Linked DNA regions of Homo sapiens: region 2 is linked to region 1. The links come from fine-mapping of genetic effects on gene expression. A gene starts in region 1. The other region holds a variant in brackets. All regions are shown on one strand. Distances are from middle to middle. Region 1 holds the start of LINC02111 (long intergenic non-protein coding RNA 2111). Region 2 has its middle 54 kb from the start of LINC02111.

What was found. PIP is the estimated chance that this variant, and not a neighbour inherited with it, causes the effect.
Region 2: its variant is the best candidate, but not a certain one, in a credible set for the expression of LINC02111 in testis (GTEx, PIP 0.54).

What each region holds. Positions count from the first base shown.
Region 1 is chr5:17,384,901-17,389,295 of GRCh38, reverse strand. It overlaps LINC02111 (long intergenic non-protein coding RNA 2111), which reads left to right and starts at 1,986. Exons shown (of 3, transcript NR_033975.1): 1 at 1,986-2,094; 2 at 3,856-4,395.
Region 2 is chr5:17,330,749-17,335,143 of GRCh38, reverse strand. No RefSeq gene overlaps it. Among named protein-coding and RNA genes, the nearest start is that of LINC02111, 54 kb to the left of the region's middle. The variant G/A (reference allele first, on the strand shown) is at 2,431.

The DNA of each region.
Region 1 (4,395 bases):
GGCGACATAGCTAGACCAGTCTCAAAAATAAAATAAAATAATAAAAAAAAATTTAAAAAACTTGACAGAGCAGTTTCAAAGAAGTGACAGGAGGAAAGTCCAAGTTGCAATGGTTGGAAACAGTAAAAGTGAAGTTAAAGTAAGCATGCCTAGGATAGGAATTTGACTACTAGAAATGGAAATATTGCTTCAACCAGACAAGAGTTCATTTTTCTCACATAACATGACATGTAGAGATAGATATCCCAGGGCCTGTGGTAATAAATCTAGGCTATCTAAGCTGACATTAGACATCAATATTGTACTCCTTCTACCCTGTCACCTCATTTTTAGCACCAGGCTTCAATTCTCAAGGATGCCTCATGATCACATGATGGTTGCTAGTTCCAGCCATCACTTTCTACATTCCAAATAAGGAAAAAATGCAAAAGGAGGGAGACAGCAAAAGGCAGCTACCAGCTGAGTAATCATTTTTAAGATAGCTTTCCCAGAAGCAACACTAGTGATTTGGATTTGTTTCTCATCGGCCTCATCTCTCTGCAAAGGATGTGAGAAAATGTACTTGGGCATACCTCTCTCTACAAAACCAGAAATCTAGGGAGAAAAGGGAGAGTTTTATTACAGAATGTGGCCATTCCTGCTGCAGCCTGTTTTCAAGCTAGTGGTAAATAATCCTGCAGAGGTCAGGCACGGTGGCTCACTCTGGTCATTCCAGCACTTTGGGAGGCTGAAGCGGATGGATCACTTGAGGTCAGGAGTTCCAGACCAGCTTGGCCAACATGGTGAAACGCTGTCTCTACAGAAAAATATATAAATTAGCTGGGTGTGGTGGTGCGTGCCTGTAATCTCAGCTACTTGGGAGACTGAGGTGGGACAATCTCTTGAACCTGGGAGGTTGAAGCTGCAGTGAGCCGAGATCGCACCACTGCACTCCAGCTTGGGTGACAGAGTGAGATCTTGTCTCAAAAATAATAATAATAATTTTAAAAATGGCCAGGTGTGGTGGCTTATGCCTGTAATCCCAGCAATTTAGGAGGCCTAGGGGGGCAGATCACCTGAGGTCAGGAGTTCCAGACCAGCTTGGCCAACATGATGAAACTCCATCTCTACTAAAACTACAAAATTAACCAGGCATGGTGGTGCACACCTGTAATTCCAGCTAGTTGGGAGGCTGAGGCAGGAGAATCACTTGAACCTGGGAGGTAGAGGTTGCAGTGAGCCAAGATCATGCCACTGCACTCCAGCCTGGGTGACAAGAGTGAAACTCGGTCTAAAAAAAAATCCTGCAGAAAGGGATAGACTGCATTGGGGGCTATGCCAGGGTGGCAGAGGGAGAGAATAATATCTTTACATACTTTTAATGAGGTATGCTTCTCTTCTCCCACTAGCTCAGTGACATTCATTGGGGGGTCAGGCCCAGACTAACAACACATGGGGTCAGTTGAAGTGGTGAATGATGATTTTTCTTTTTAACATGACTTTCATGTTGATCTTACACCAAAGTGCTTTTAAACTAGCAAAAGCTTAGAACTAGTTGAGGGAAAAGTATTGCTCTCAAAACTAAGCGGGCTTTGATAGGAAGATGAAGACAGAGGTTGGATACCTAGGCAAAGAGTCTGTCTCAGTTAACATTGGAATAAGGAAGGCTGCAGGATAGCTCCTAACACTGGCGAAAGGAATTAACACTGCCCACGCCTTTTTGTTTGCTTGTTTCAGTTTCTTATTTTGCTGTAGTTAAGAGCCTGGAAAGAGAAAAAAAAATCAGATACTGCTGATTGTTTCAGCAGGTTGGGGGAAAAGGAGAGACCGTGGTTGATAATCCAGGCTGATGGATGTGAGGGGTAGGAAAGAAATCTCCATCATATGTATGAGAATCCAAAGGCAGAAAGCTGTTTCCATTTGGAATCCTAAGGCGAGGCAGCTTCCCAGACTGCCTGCCCAACACGGAGCAGCTCCAGAAGAACAGGATGGGGCGGGGGCCAAGCGCAGAAGGGCTGGGAGGTCCCCACCCCAGGCCCCCTCATTTCCAGTGAGGCCTGCAGAAGACCCAGAAAATTTCTCATAGGCCCTGAGGAGGAAAAGAACAGAAAATTAGTAAGTTGTATGCCTGCCGAGGGTCACCAAAGTGTGGGGCCAGGAGACCCCGTAGCAGAGGCACAGGAAGGACAGCCCAAAGCTGAGAGCCAGTGGAGGAGTCTTCCAAGTCCCGGGGAATCAGCGGAACTAGGGGGAAACCGATGGGGAAATGGCAGAGCTCCCGACAACCAAGGGCAGGGCAGACCTGTGCTGAGAGAGCAGGCGTGGGGGAGCTTGGGCACAGTGACTATAGTGGGAAACCCGCACACCAACAGAATGAGGCATTTCCCAGAAGCCAGCCTCTGGAGACCATGTGGGGTTTAGGGGACTAGCGCTTCCCTCGACGCCATGCTGGTTTTGTCCACACGGCTACAGGGCACCCGGGGAGGCCACAGAAGCAAATTCAACTGGTTGGAAAATTCTCAAAAGATACTTTTCCCTTCTTCCTTCCTTCCTTCTTTCCTTCCTTCCTTCCCTCCCTCCCTCCTTTCTTCCTTTCTTTCTTTCGAGATGGGGTCTCACTATGTTGCCCAGACTGGTCTCTAGCTCATGGACTCAAGTGATCCTCCCGCCTTGGCCTCCCCAATGTGCTAGGATTACAGGTGTGAGCCACTGTGCCCAGCAAAAGAGACCTTTTTTAAAACAGAAAAAAAAAAAAAAAGGCAGGTGCAGTGGCTCACGCCTGTAATTCCAGCACTTTTGGAGGCCAGGGCGGGCAGATCACCTGAAGTCAGGAGCTCGAATCCAGGCTGGCCAACATGGTGAAACCCTGTCTGTAATAAAAACACAAAATTAGTTGGGTGTGGTGGCATGCGCCTGTAATCCCAGACCTTTGGGAGGCTGAGACAGGAGAATCGCTTGAACCCAGGTGGCAGATTGAAGTGAGCTGAGATGGCGCCACTGCACTCCAGCCTGGGTGACAGAGCTAGACTCTTTCTCAAAAAAATAAATAAATAAAACAGAAAAAAAATGTTTGAAGAGAAATTGTTTTTTGAGCAAACTGAGGTTTTGTTTGTTTTTGAGACGGAATTTCGTTCTTGTCGCCCAGGCTGGAGTGCAGTGGTACGACCTCAGCTCACTGCAACCTCCTCCTCCTGGGTTCAAGCAATACTCCTGCCTCAGCCTCTTCCCGGAGTAGATGGGACTACAGGCATGCACCACCACGCCCAGCTAATTTTTGTGTTTTTAGTAGAGATGGGGTTTCACTATGTTGGCCAGGCTGGTCTCGAACTCCTGACCTCAGTTGATCCTCCTGCCTCGGCTTCCCAAAGTGCTGGATTACAGGCGTGAGCCATTGCGCCTGGCCAGGTTTTTCTCTTTCAAGCTGAGCTGTCCAGTATGGTAGCTGCTAGCCACAGGTGGTCCATTGGGTGGCTAGTCTGAATGGAGATGTCTGCCAGTGTAATATAAACATGGGTTTTCAAAGACTCAGTCCAAAAAATATATATCTAAATTATCTCTTTAATCATGTGGTATATGAATTACATAATTAAACAATGTAGTTTTGACATATGGATGAAATAAAATACATTATTTAAATTAATTTCACCTGTTTCTTTTTACTTTTTTTAATGTGGCTGAAAAATATATGGTTCACATTTGTGGCTCATTATATATTTTATTGGACAGCACCACTTTAGAGATAGAAAGCAAGCTGTATTTCTGCAGGTATTCATCCTGAATCGAGGATCAAATATAGGTGTGAAAACTTTCAGATCTGTTAGGTATCTATTGATGTGTAAAACAAGTTGATTTAAGTCAACATTTATTATCTCGTAGGTCTGTGTGCCAGGAATCTGGGTGCCACTTAGGCGGGCCTGCTGGCTCAGGGTCTCTCACAGGCTGAAATCAAGGTGTCACCTGAGGCTACCATCATCTCAAGGCTTAACTGGCAAAGGATGTACATTCAGCCACCCTAGATGGTTGTTGGCAGGACGCAAACTCCTCGTGGGCTATTGAATTGAGGACCTCTGTTTATTGTTCTTGTCAGCCCAAGGCTGCCCTGAGTTCCTTGCCATAAGGACCTCTCCATAAGGCAGCTTGCAACATGGGAGGTGCTTCATCAGAGCCAGCTGGTGACAGAGTACAAGCAAGATGAAAGTGACAGTCTTCTATAACCTGATCTTGGAAGTGACAGCCTATCATTTTTGCCATATTCTTCTCATTAGAAGCAAGTCAATAGTCCCACACTCTAAGTAAGGAGATTGCAGAAGGGCATAAATAGGAGGAGATGGGGATTGCTGAAGGCCAATTCAGAAGCTGCCTGCCTAGAACCAAGGAGTATACGAAGCATGCACAAGATGGTTCATCCTGGCAGAG
Region 2 (4,395 bases), 54 kb after region 1:
CCAAAGTAAAGAATATGTAAATTACTCTAGTTGTTCCATAATATTTCAGCATCATCACACCCCCAAAAAATGATAAACTGTGACAACAGTAGATGTGATTTAATAGATAATTACATTTAATATAATATAAGTACTTATCTATCAATCCAAGGCTGAATATTTTCTTCTGCCAGGTCAATGAGTATGTCTCATGGGCTTAAAATGGACAGTGCAAAGAATGAGCAGTCTATAAAAGCAGGTTTTACACTGCATGATACCAGGTAAATGCTGCATGATAGCTGTTTGGCTTGAAGTGCTGTTTTAAAAGCTGGGAGAGAAGGTATAAAGGGGTTCCCTGTGAAGAGTTTGGCATATGCCCATGGCCTTCTACTATTTTGATTACATTCATGTTTGATATGGTTTGGCTGTGTCCCCACCCAAATCTCATCTTGAATTATAGCTCCCATAATTCCCACATGTTGTGGGAGGGACCTGGTGGGAGATAACTGAATCATTGGTGCAGTTTCCCCCATACTGTTCTTGTGATAGTGAGTAAGTCTCACGATATCAGATGGCTTTATAAGGGGCTTCCCCTTTCACTTCTCTCTCATTATCTCTTGCCTGCCACCATGTAAAATGTGCCTTTCACCTACCACCATGATTGTGAGGCCTCCCCAGTCATGTTGAACTGTGAGTCCATTAAACCTCTTTTCCTTTACAAATTACCCAATTTCAGGTATGTCTTTATCAGCACCATGGAAACGGACTAATACAATGTTAAAGAACATATTATGACTGTATCAGGCAGAGTTCTTCAGAGAAACAGAGCTAATAAGGTATGTATAGATATATAGAAAGAGATTGAGCATGAGGGATTGGCTCACATGATTATGGAGGCTGAGAAGGCCTGTGATCTGCCCTCTGCAAGCAGGATGCCCAGGAAAACTGGAGGTGTCATTCCAGGATAAACTCAAAGGCCTGAGAACCAGAGATGCCAACGGTTTAAATCCCAGTCCAAGTCTGAAGACCTGAGAATGTGGGGGTGGGCCAATGGTGGAAATCCTGGTCAAGTCTGAAAGTGCAGGAATCAAGAGCACCAATGCCCAAGGGCAGGAGAAGATGGATGTCCCAGCTCAAGAAGAGTGAATTCACCCTGCTGAAAAATTCTTAACAGGGAGGTGGTTAGACTGAGGTAGTTCTAGTGTCTACCTAAGCCCAACATAAACAGTAAAATGAAAATAGAGACTTTACCAATCGAAACTGCAGCTGCCCTCTAACCAAGGTCTTTCCATTCTAACCAATCAAGTATATTTTCTTTGTCTTACTCGTGTGTCCACCTACAAAAGCTCTCTGCCCACCCTGCTGTAGCAGAGCGTTCTATACCTCTTCTGGTTTTAAGTGATGTCTGATTCATGAATTATCCTTTACTCAAATAAACTCTGTTAAATTAATATTGTCTAAAATTTGGGTTTTCTTTTTTTCAAATCACCTTTTCTCCATCTTTGTGTTTCTATCTGGGCCCTCATGGGATCAGACCATACTCACCTACACTGGTGAGCACAGTCTTCCTTACTCAGTCAACCAACTCAAAGGCTAATCTCTTCCAAAAACACCCTCACAGACATACCCAGAAATAATGTTTTAGCAGCTACTTGGGCATCCTTTAACCTAGTCAAGTTGACACATAAAATGAACCAGTACAATGGCCATGCAATGCTAGAGAAGAATTAAATGTGTACCCCTGTCAACCTAAGGGAAGAAACTGGGGCACAAAATATAATTTTAAGGAGTTTGCTCAGCCAGGTGCAGTGGCTCATGCCTGTAATCCCAACATTTTGGGAGGCTGAGGCAGGTGGATCACTTGAGGCCAGGAGTTTGAGACCAGCCTAGCCAACATGGTGAAATCTCATCTCTACTAAAAATGCAAAAATTAGCCAGGTTGGTGGCTCACATCTATAATCCCAGCTACTCTGGAGGCTGATGCAGGAGAATTACTTGAGCTTAGGAAGCAGAGGTTGCAGTGAGCCGAGATGGTGCCATTGCACTCCAGCCTGAGCCACAGAGTGAGACTCCATCTCAAAAAAAAAAAAAAAAAAAAAAAAGAGTTTACTAGAGCCAAGATAAGAACAGCTGCCTGGAAGACTCAGACCCAAGTAACCTTAAATATGAGCCTTTGTTACAAGAAGGCTTTTATAGGCAAAAAAAAGGGGACAGGAAGTAGCTATTACAAACTTGCTTGACAGGGATTCTCATTGGTTTACAAAAATAACATTGATTAGTGATTGCCTGTACATTTTTCTTTGTATCACAAATTCCAGAAACATGAAGACAGTAGTGACAGTCACATGGTGCAACTTGCAGTGACATTTTAGATAATTTATCAGCTAGTTTGGAAACTACCAGGAGGAAAGAAAGAATAAAGTGCCTTTAAACAATTGTCCCTAAACGTGG[G/A]TGCAGGGATGGGGGGCAAATGACTGAAGTCTCATGCTCGCATCTTTCTGGGCCTGATAAATTTTGCATATCTGACATTCCTCAGAATGCTCTGAGCTATTTTTCTTTCTCACCCACGACTAAAATGTTACCGGTCATGTTTTTTCAACTTCACTTGTAAGATAGCTCTAACAAAAATGTCCATATGCCAACAAATTTCCCCCTAAAATAACTCTAACCACCCTTTTTCCTCACTAAACACTCGCCAGTGAAGTACTTTCCCACCAACAGTGATTTCCTGTTCCTCAAACACACCCTGCACTTTCTTGCCTCCACGCTTTTAGTCTCATCACGTTCCCTGTCTGACATTATAATCCTCGCTCTCCCTCCCCACTGTTTTTACCTCCACCTACACTTTTTTTTCTTTTCTTTTTTTTTTTGAGATGGAGCGTCACTCTTGTTGTCTAGGCTGGAGTGCAGTGGCGCAATCTCAGCTCACTACAACCTCCGCCTCCTGAGTTCAAGCGATTTTCCTGCTTCAGCCTCCCGAGTAGCTGGGATTACAGGTGTGCACCACCACACCTGGCTAATTTTGTACTTTTAGTAGAGACGGGGTTTCACCATATAGGTCAGGCTGGTCTCAAACTCCCAGCCTTAGGTGATCCACCCACCCCAGGCTCCCAAAGTGCTGGGATTACAGGCATGAGCCACCGCGCCCGGCCCACCTACACTTTTTGTGCCTATCCAAATTGCTCCTCCTCTGTAAAAACTTCCAGATCACATCATTCCAGAGTTACTTCTCCCCCTTCTGAATTTCTTTGATGTACACGCTCTGCAATATTTATTTGGAAACTGATAATTTATTTTCTCTTATATTTGCTAAATCATCACTTATTTATGATTTATCTTACCAATTGTTTTGAACCTTTCTATAGTAGAGAGACTTTGTCTATTTATTTGTGAACCCAGCAATGTCTTATAACTGGGAGGAAGACAATGTACACTTGTTGCTTGATTATTGTTAATTTATGAAAGAAGTGATGGAAGAAAAAGGAATAACAATAATTGTTAACATTTACTGAGTGCATTAGTCTGTTTTCACGCTGCTGATAAAGAAATACCAGGACTCGGAAGAAAAAGAGGTTTAACTGAACTCACAGTTCCACATGACTAGGGAAGCCTCAGAATCATGGCGGGAGGTAAAAGGTACTGCTTACATAGGGGTGGCAAGAGAAAATGAGAAAGATGCAAAAGAGGAAACCCCAGATAAAACCATCAGATCTCGTAAAACTTATTCACTACCACGAGAACAGTATGGGGGAAACTGCCCACATGATTCAAATTCTCTCTTACCACCTCCCTCCGACAACATGTGGGAATTATGACAGTACAATTCAAGATGAGATTTGGGTGGGGACACAGAGCCAAACCATATCACTAAGTGTTTACCTGTCAGATACTTACGGTTCAATCTACTATTTGCATATTATTTGTTTTGTTTTGTTTTGTTTTGAGACAGAGTCTCCCTCTGTAGCCCAGGCTGGAGTGCAGTGGCTGGATCTCGGCTCACAGTGCAACCTCTGCCTCCTAGGTCCTGGTTCAAGCAATTCTCCTGCCTCAGCCTCCCGAGTAGCTGGGATGACAGGCACATACCACCACACCCAGCTAATTTTTGTATTTTTAGTAGAGATGGGGTTTCACCATGTTGGCCAGGCTGGTCTTGAACTCCTGACCTTGTGATCCGCCCGCCTCAGCCTCCTTAGGTGCTGGGATTACATACATTGTATCACTTAATCTCCATATTCTATGAGAGCAGATATTCTTACTATCTTTATCCTGCAAATGAGGGATATAAGGCACAGATGGGTGGAATATGCCCACCATGGTCTGGTTCTGCAGCTAGTCAGTGGTGGAGCATTTGAAGTCAGCCAAACAATTGACCCCAGCACCATATGCCTAAGAGCTACAGGTTGGTACAGATAATTG